Homo sapiens: one gene and its partner. The protein of the gene in region 1 purifies or fractionates together with the protein of each later gene. This does not show direct contact. Each region holds a gene or a part of one and is shown on either strand. Other genes may lie near its edges.

Region 1 (3,126 bases):
CTTCCACCTCCCACGTTCAAGTGATTTTCCTGCCTCTGTAATCCCAAAGTGCTGGGATTACAGGCGTGAGCCACCGCACCCAGCCATAAATTCTTAACATAAATACTAAAATCGAGGAGCAGTTATTTTTACAAGTGTGGAAAAAAGGTCACCTGAAGGTCTTCCATGGGAGTAGCAGAATGGTTCTTACTCACAAAAAATTCACAATAATGAAAACTCCTTAAAAATTCACGAAATAATTATGCAGAACAATAAGCTTTCAAAATACAATTATATTATGACCTTCCCCCGTTATCTAAGGGCATGAAGCAAGTTCAACCGCAAGTGCATGGTAGCAGAAAACTGCCAGTGCCTTTTGCTCAACAGGTGGCCCAGCGTTAGTCTTGAACATTTTCAAGTATAGGATTGTTTGATGACCCCGGCTAGTTAAGGTTTCCCTTTCTCTCTCACACACATTTCTCAAAGTACCTATCCTCCCGAATATCCGACAAGGGACCGATCGAAGAGTCAGTGAAAGAAAAACATCATTATTCTTTGACATCGGCACATTTCAAAAACAGCTCATTACACAGAACAGCCAACTTTTTTTTTAATTGTTTTATTTGGGAAAAGTGCTTCTTACAAAAGGGCAGCTGCAAAATACAGAGACCTCTGCAACAATTATTTGTTTTTTCTTAAAGTGAAAGAATGGGTGGGATCCAAGGAATCAAAGCAGTAGATGGACAAACCAGGAGCATCCCCGAGTTATTTTCAGGAAACAGAGCAACAAAACACAAAGGTACAATTTCCAATCAAGGAATTCTTCCAACAACTTAACTTTAGCTAATCTCAGGGATTCCCAAGCCCTCCCTTTCGGTGGAAAAGTATGACTTATCACTGCAAACCCATTACTCCACTACAATAAACACCTTAGAACAGAGTTTTGAATCACGTCTGTCTACCTGAAAGCTCAGGGGTGGAATGAGGCAAATACCCACAAAAACAAACACAAAAACCCGACAACAAAATGCCTCAAGTGAGGACAAAGGTTTCTCAGAAAGTGCCTGTACTGGAAAGGCTAGATCGTAAAACATTAAATACAACTGTGTATCCAAGACCCAGTTTGTGTTATTATATGGGATAACCAGGTAGTTTTAACCTCTATGGCTAACCCCATTTCTCTATTTATATAGACAGAGCTAGCACTGCTATATTGACAACTACCAATATACTGCTTTGCCCTTTAAGATCTATCTGCCACACAAGGCTTAAACCACTAAACCAGGTTTTTCTACTAAGGCTAAGAATACTGCATCTATGCAGGGATGAGAAGCTTATCACACACCCACACACTCACACCATGTCAGCCCTTGGGAGCCAACTTCCAACTCTGCATTGATGTTATGCCTCTCTATCTTTTATACGTATTCTTTCTCAATTTTCCTATCATGCAAAACAGTAAAAAATCTCAACACATTCACACCTGATTCTGGTTACCCAGTAGTATTACTTGTGTGCAATTAAACAAGAGACCAAAACCACAGAACAAGTGCACGTGGTAGGGATTACAGGGTAGGGAACAGATATAAAAACACAGATGTGCAGATTTCACCAGAAACCTCAAGGATCCACATCCCATGTCTGGGGCAGAGGGCTATTGGCCAGCTTAGGTCCCTTCACCCATCACTCCTATTCTTGGACCCCAAAGCAGGGCCACTGCTTTTACTTTTGAACCTGGGGTCCTCAAAATGAGTGTGTGAAAAGTCCATAAATGCAATCTGGTTGAAAACAGATGACGCAACACACCTACACTAACTGTCTGACAGTTAAATTCGTGTTACAAAAAACTAACTTTAAGATTTATTTTTGTAACTTTTTTCAACAGGGAAAACAACACACTCCTCAGGGAAAGGTGAGGGGTTGAGAAGACAGGCCCTGGGTAAAAATTCTTAGGACAGCACCTGGAGTTGAGAGGCCTGCCTAGGAGAGAACACAGGCACTGCCACACCACCACAGGGGACAGCTGCTGTCTGAGGTCAGCAGACCAGTTCACACGCCACGCAAGGTTGCTATAGATCCAAGTCATAAAAATCTTCCAGCTCATCATGAAACAAGTCCCACTCATCTTCAGAGTCTGTTAGTTCGTCGTCCCCACCTGCAGCCAAAAGCATAAGCAACATCTCGCCCAGCTCAAAGGTGACAACCTCTTCTTCATCGTTGTCAAAGGGGTTGCTGTTCTCTCTTTCCTCAATGAGTTCCCAGAAGTGGTTCCTTCGTTGGGCCTGTAAAAAACAAGGCCATGATAGGGATGGCACTGTCGAGCAGTATCTTCTATCCTGTTGTTTATAAGGCAAAACGTCCAGCACACCAGAGGGCATGACGAACCAGACTTCTTAGTTAGGGTTTCCATTTACCACTTCCTCCCCTCTGGTTACTTCATGGAAATCGTTTAGGCTAGAGCTTTAACACACATTTTTTCTTCCTTTCCTATCCCTCCCAGTTTTCTGAGGTTTGTTTCCTCCTTTAATACTCTACACTTTCGCTCCCAGACCTGAGCGTTAACCTTCTCCTTCCCCTACCCCAATATGTGCAGGACTCAACTGATACCTTGGAATTTCCCCTCCTTTAAAAAAACAGTGAGAGTTACCCGGTATCTGCTTGATGTTCCCACTTTCTGTCTCTGTGGCTCCTCTCTACGGCCATCAGGGTACGCATGCTTGTAAAAACAGTTCCCTCCAAATGGGCAGCTCCCACGTCCTTCATCAAAATACCTGCACGCCTTGTTGCTGGAAAGGAAAATATCGCAACCCTTATTCACAGTGGATTTCAGGTCTGTATTTGACTATCATCCGGGGTTTCTTTAAACAGGTAGGGATAGAACCAGTATGTCAGCTTACAGCCCTCCCCAAGATGTGTTCTTATAAACATGTGTGTGCCAATGCAAGAAACACTAACTAGAAACCGGTAACTCTGTTCAAGTCTATGCTGGTTAATAGCTCTAGTACAAGCAGATGCCATAGAGAGAAAATCTTCTAGAAAGCCAACACATGAGAACATAGGACAGCTATGACACGGATTCAGAATAAGGTAGAACCCCACTCATGGGGCCTTACTTGTCAACAGTAGAGACCTCTTTATAACACAGTC
Region 2 (3,753 bases), about 120 Mb from region 1:
CCCCCAGCACGCTAATTTTGTGCTGCCCATGTGTTAGGCACTTTTCTAAACATTTCATATATTGTGTAAACCTTAAACTACCTTAGGATGTAGGTGCTCTTATCCCTGGTTTTACAGAAAAAGGTTAAGTAACTTGCCCAATGTCATACAAGGCAAATGGCAGAGCTAGGATTTGAACTAGCAGCCTGGCTGCCAAGTCTCAGCTCTACCATCTCTCAGTAGACATTGAAAGGCACACTGCAGCCCCAAAGACCTCAAATCCCACTAAACGTGCAATGGTTCATACCAGAACAAATGCTACAAGAGCTCCTGCCATTCCTATCTCTAAGATCCCAGGGATTAGAGAGATTTGTAGAGTCTATGGGCAGGGTCTAACAGAGATAATCCAAGGGTAAGGAAAAAGGGGGCATTTTAATTCAAGTCTAGGCAATCTCAGGGACAGGAGGGAAAACATCTGAAAACAAGTTTCCAAGGCATATTAACCTGGCAGGTTTGTAAATTTTAAGGTCTCACCTTAGCATAGGATTACAAACCATTAAGCAAAATTAACCTTTGAGAGACAGGTAAATCCAGCAACCAGTACAGAACTCTTAAAATTAAAGACTTTTGGTTAATTTCGAAATATAATTTTGAGTGTGATTCTACTCAGCTCTTAGATAAGAATTTCCATTGACTCTTTCTGAGATTTAGACATATTTAAGGGAGACGCCAGGTTATGGACTACCTGTGCATTTGTTACCTGTGGACATAGCACATACTCTAGAGCACATACCTTGAACTGAGCCTCTGGTGGTCCAGTGATAATCACCATCCTCACTTTAGCATCTGGTGCTTCCGCTGGAGCAATCTGTAACAGACCCAACAACAAGTTATGATACTTTCAGGTATCACTGATAGGCATCTTGGGCCAACCAGCCTAACATTTGCATGTGACTGGCTGAAATGCAGAATTAAAGCCTTCGTGAAGGAAATTAGGGAGAGGCAGCAATTCCTGTGGGTTCACAATTTAGGCCTCCCTCCTGCATATACTATATGCTTATTCTGTGCCGGGCCCTAATGGAGACCTCCACGTGCTGTCTCTCAGCTAATCCTCACCACGTCCTGATGAAGTAGTATTACCTCCACTTCACAAATGCGGAAATGGAAGGCTGGAGAAATTGAGTTATCTGGACCATGATCACACAGCTAACAGAGCTAGAGGGAGAGCTGGGTCTGTCTCCATTGCCTGTGTTCACTACACCAGTGGTGCTCAAAGTATGGTCCTTGGCCCACTTGCATCAGGGCTCCTTGGGCTTCCTGTGTATGCAACACACTCTAGGAATCTCTGTACCCTAAGTTTCAAGGATACTGCACACCACATGCCTTTGTTTGTCTGAGGCAGGGTCTTACTGTGTGGCCTAGGCTGGAGTGCAGTGGTGTGATCATAGCTCACTGCAGCCTCAACCACCCAAGCTCAAGTGTTCCTCCCACCTCAGCCTCCCAAGCAGCTGGGACTACAGGTGTGTGCCACCATGCCTGGCTAATTACACTTTTTTTTTTGTAGAGATGGGGTCTCACCATGTTGCACAGTCTGGTCTTCAGCTCCTGGGGTCAAGCAATTTGCCTGCTTTGGCCTCCCAAAGTGCTGGGATTACAGGTGTGAGCCACCGCACCTGGCCAACCTTTATTTTCCTTAAATAAGGCATCAAAATACAGAATCTTCAGAACACACAGTTATCTATTACGGCAGACACCATTATTTGTCCTCTGGTATGTTACCTTCTGTAGTTACAAAATGTTTAGCTGACTGTGCATAGCCTGTATTTTGCCCCTTCAACTTCGTCTGGCCAAGTTCTGGGCAATGGAAATATAGGTAGAAATATCCCACAGTAGCTAACAAGAAACCTCCCTAGAAGAAAAGCTCTTTATTATGTTCTCCTCTCCTACTGGCTGGGCAACAGACCTGATTCCTGGAGCACTGAATGGTGTCAATCTGGAACCAAGAGGGACCAAGGCCGTACCTGGGGAAGGTGGCTTGGAAGGAACTTAGGTCCAAGGACTTGGTGGGGGCAGAGCCAACACCCAGCCCGGATGTTCACCTCCTAACTGTGTTTTCTGCACAGAGAAGTTAGCCTCCTTGGTGTAAGCCACTGTTGTTTGGGGGTTTCTTCATATCCTTATGTAACCCTAACAGTGTCTTTTACATTCTATTCAAATTATAAAGTGGCAAGAAGATTCATATTTCTGTAACTTACTTAAAGAACCAGAGAACCACAGCTGGTAGAACAGTACCTTAATTGAAGCTCCAGCAAAGCGAGAAAGCTGCTTGATGTGCTGGCCCTGCTTGCCGATGATGGCACCGACTGATAGAGCTGGGATAAACAGATGAACAGTCTCCGTTTCTGATTGCTGTTAGAAAAGAAAGCCAGGACACCCATGTTTATTTGCTACAAATCAGGCTTTTGTTAACATTAGCTTTAGGAAGGACACCTTCTCATGCAGTAGGAATACCAGGAAAGTTTAAGGAAAAGCTACCATAAGAAGTTGACCAGACCTTACCTAATAGGTCAAGAAGATCTCATACAGTCATCCTGAAAACAGTGGTATTTAAAATTTCACTTTTCTCTACTGTTGCCTTAAACTTTAAAATGTCACTGAGTTATGGATTTAAAAGATATGTAGATGTTGTAAAGTTTAATCATATTAGAATAGCGGGACATGCTTGCATTAAAAATTAAGTAAGAGCCCCCTACCACTCTCAAGGTAGATTCTTAACAAGTAAATGAAATTCTGGGCTACATATCAAACACAACAGAACTCAAGGACGCCAGCTCCACACCTTATCTATGTAGGTTTCACTCCTTAAACACATACACAGTGAAGTGTTTAAGAGAAAAGCTGAATTTTGTTACATATGACTAAATTGTATGAAACCTTACCACTGTCATTCAATAGTTATCACATCCAAGCACAGGACAGGATTAGGAGAGAGCTAATTCACTTTAGTGGTAAGATGCCCTAAGATGCTTTCCCACAGAATTCCTTATTCCTTCCATCTGTGCCTTCCCTTTGCTTTTTTTTTGAGATGGAATCTCACTCTTGTTGCCCAGACTAGAGTGCAATGGCACGATCTCGGCTCACTGCAACCTCCACCTCCCGGATTCAAGCTACTCTCCTGCCTCAGCTTCCCAAGGAGCTGAGATTACAGGCACTTGTCACCACACCCGGCTAATTTTTTTTTTTTTTTGTAGAGATAGGGTTTCACCATGTTGGCCAGGCTGGTCTTGAACTCCTGACCTCAAATGATCCACCCGCCTTGGCCTCCCAAAGTGCTGGGATTACAGGCGTGAGCCACTGCGCCCAGCCCCCTTTGCATTTTATACATGAAAAAATTAGAAAATATTTTGTAGGCTAACTCCTGAAAGGTCATTCATAAATAGATTTTATCTATGTACCTCATTCCTTCACTACTTCCCACTTCAAGCCAGTTGTGCCCTTCCTGGGTCTCTTTTCAAATAGTCCTTGCAGGGATAAAGGACACATTTGCTCAAGAGTTCACAGTGACTGGGCTCCTAAAAAGGCCAATTCAAGGTTCAAGGTTCAGTAATGCTACCAGTCAACTAACAGTTCTAAAGTACAGAAGCAGTGCACATAATTTATGCATTTTCCACTTTGTTTACCTTCTAACAATATAGTGAGAAAAACACTTCCAAGGATAAGCTAGTTCCAAGACACATATTACAAGAAATAGTTATTGAAATGAGCCACAACTGA

Evidence for each region. The genes of interacting proteins can lie anywhere in the genome.
Region 2: the proteins of MKRN1 (region 1) and IGF2BP3 purify together in Homo sapiens (affinity purification with mass spectrometry; 2 studies listed by BioGRID and IntAct, with this or other methods). This does not show direct contact.

What each region holds. Positions count from the first base shown.
Region 1 is NC_000007.14:140,452,469-140,455,594, forward strand, and holds the end of MKRN1 (E3 ubiquitin-protein ligase makorin-1), read right to left. Parts: intron 2,766-3,126; coding exon 2,627-2,765; intron 2,262-2,626; coding exon 2,049-2,261; 3' UTR 565-2,048; downstream 1-564. UniProt on the Homo sapiens protein: E3 ubiquitin ligase catalyzing the covalent attachment of ubiquitin moieties onto substrate proteins. These substrates include FILIP1, p53/TP53, CDKN1A and TERT.
Region 2 is NC_000007.14:23,316,867-23,320,619, forward strand, and holds part of IGF2BP3 (insulin-like growth factor 2 mRNA-binding protein 3), read right to left. Parts: intron 2,389-3,753; coding exon 2,272-2,388; intron 848-2,271; coding exon 773-847; intron 1-772. UniProt on the Homo sapiens protein: RNA-binding factor that may recruit target transcripts to cytoplasmic protein-RNA complexes (mRNPs). This transcript 'caging' into mRNPs allows mRNA transport and transient storage.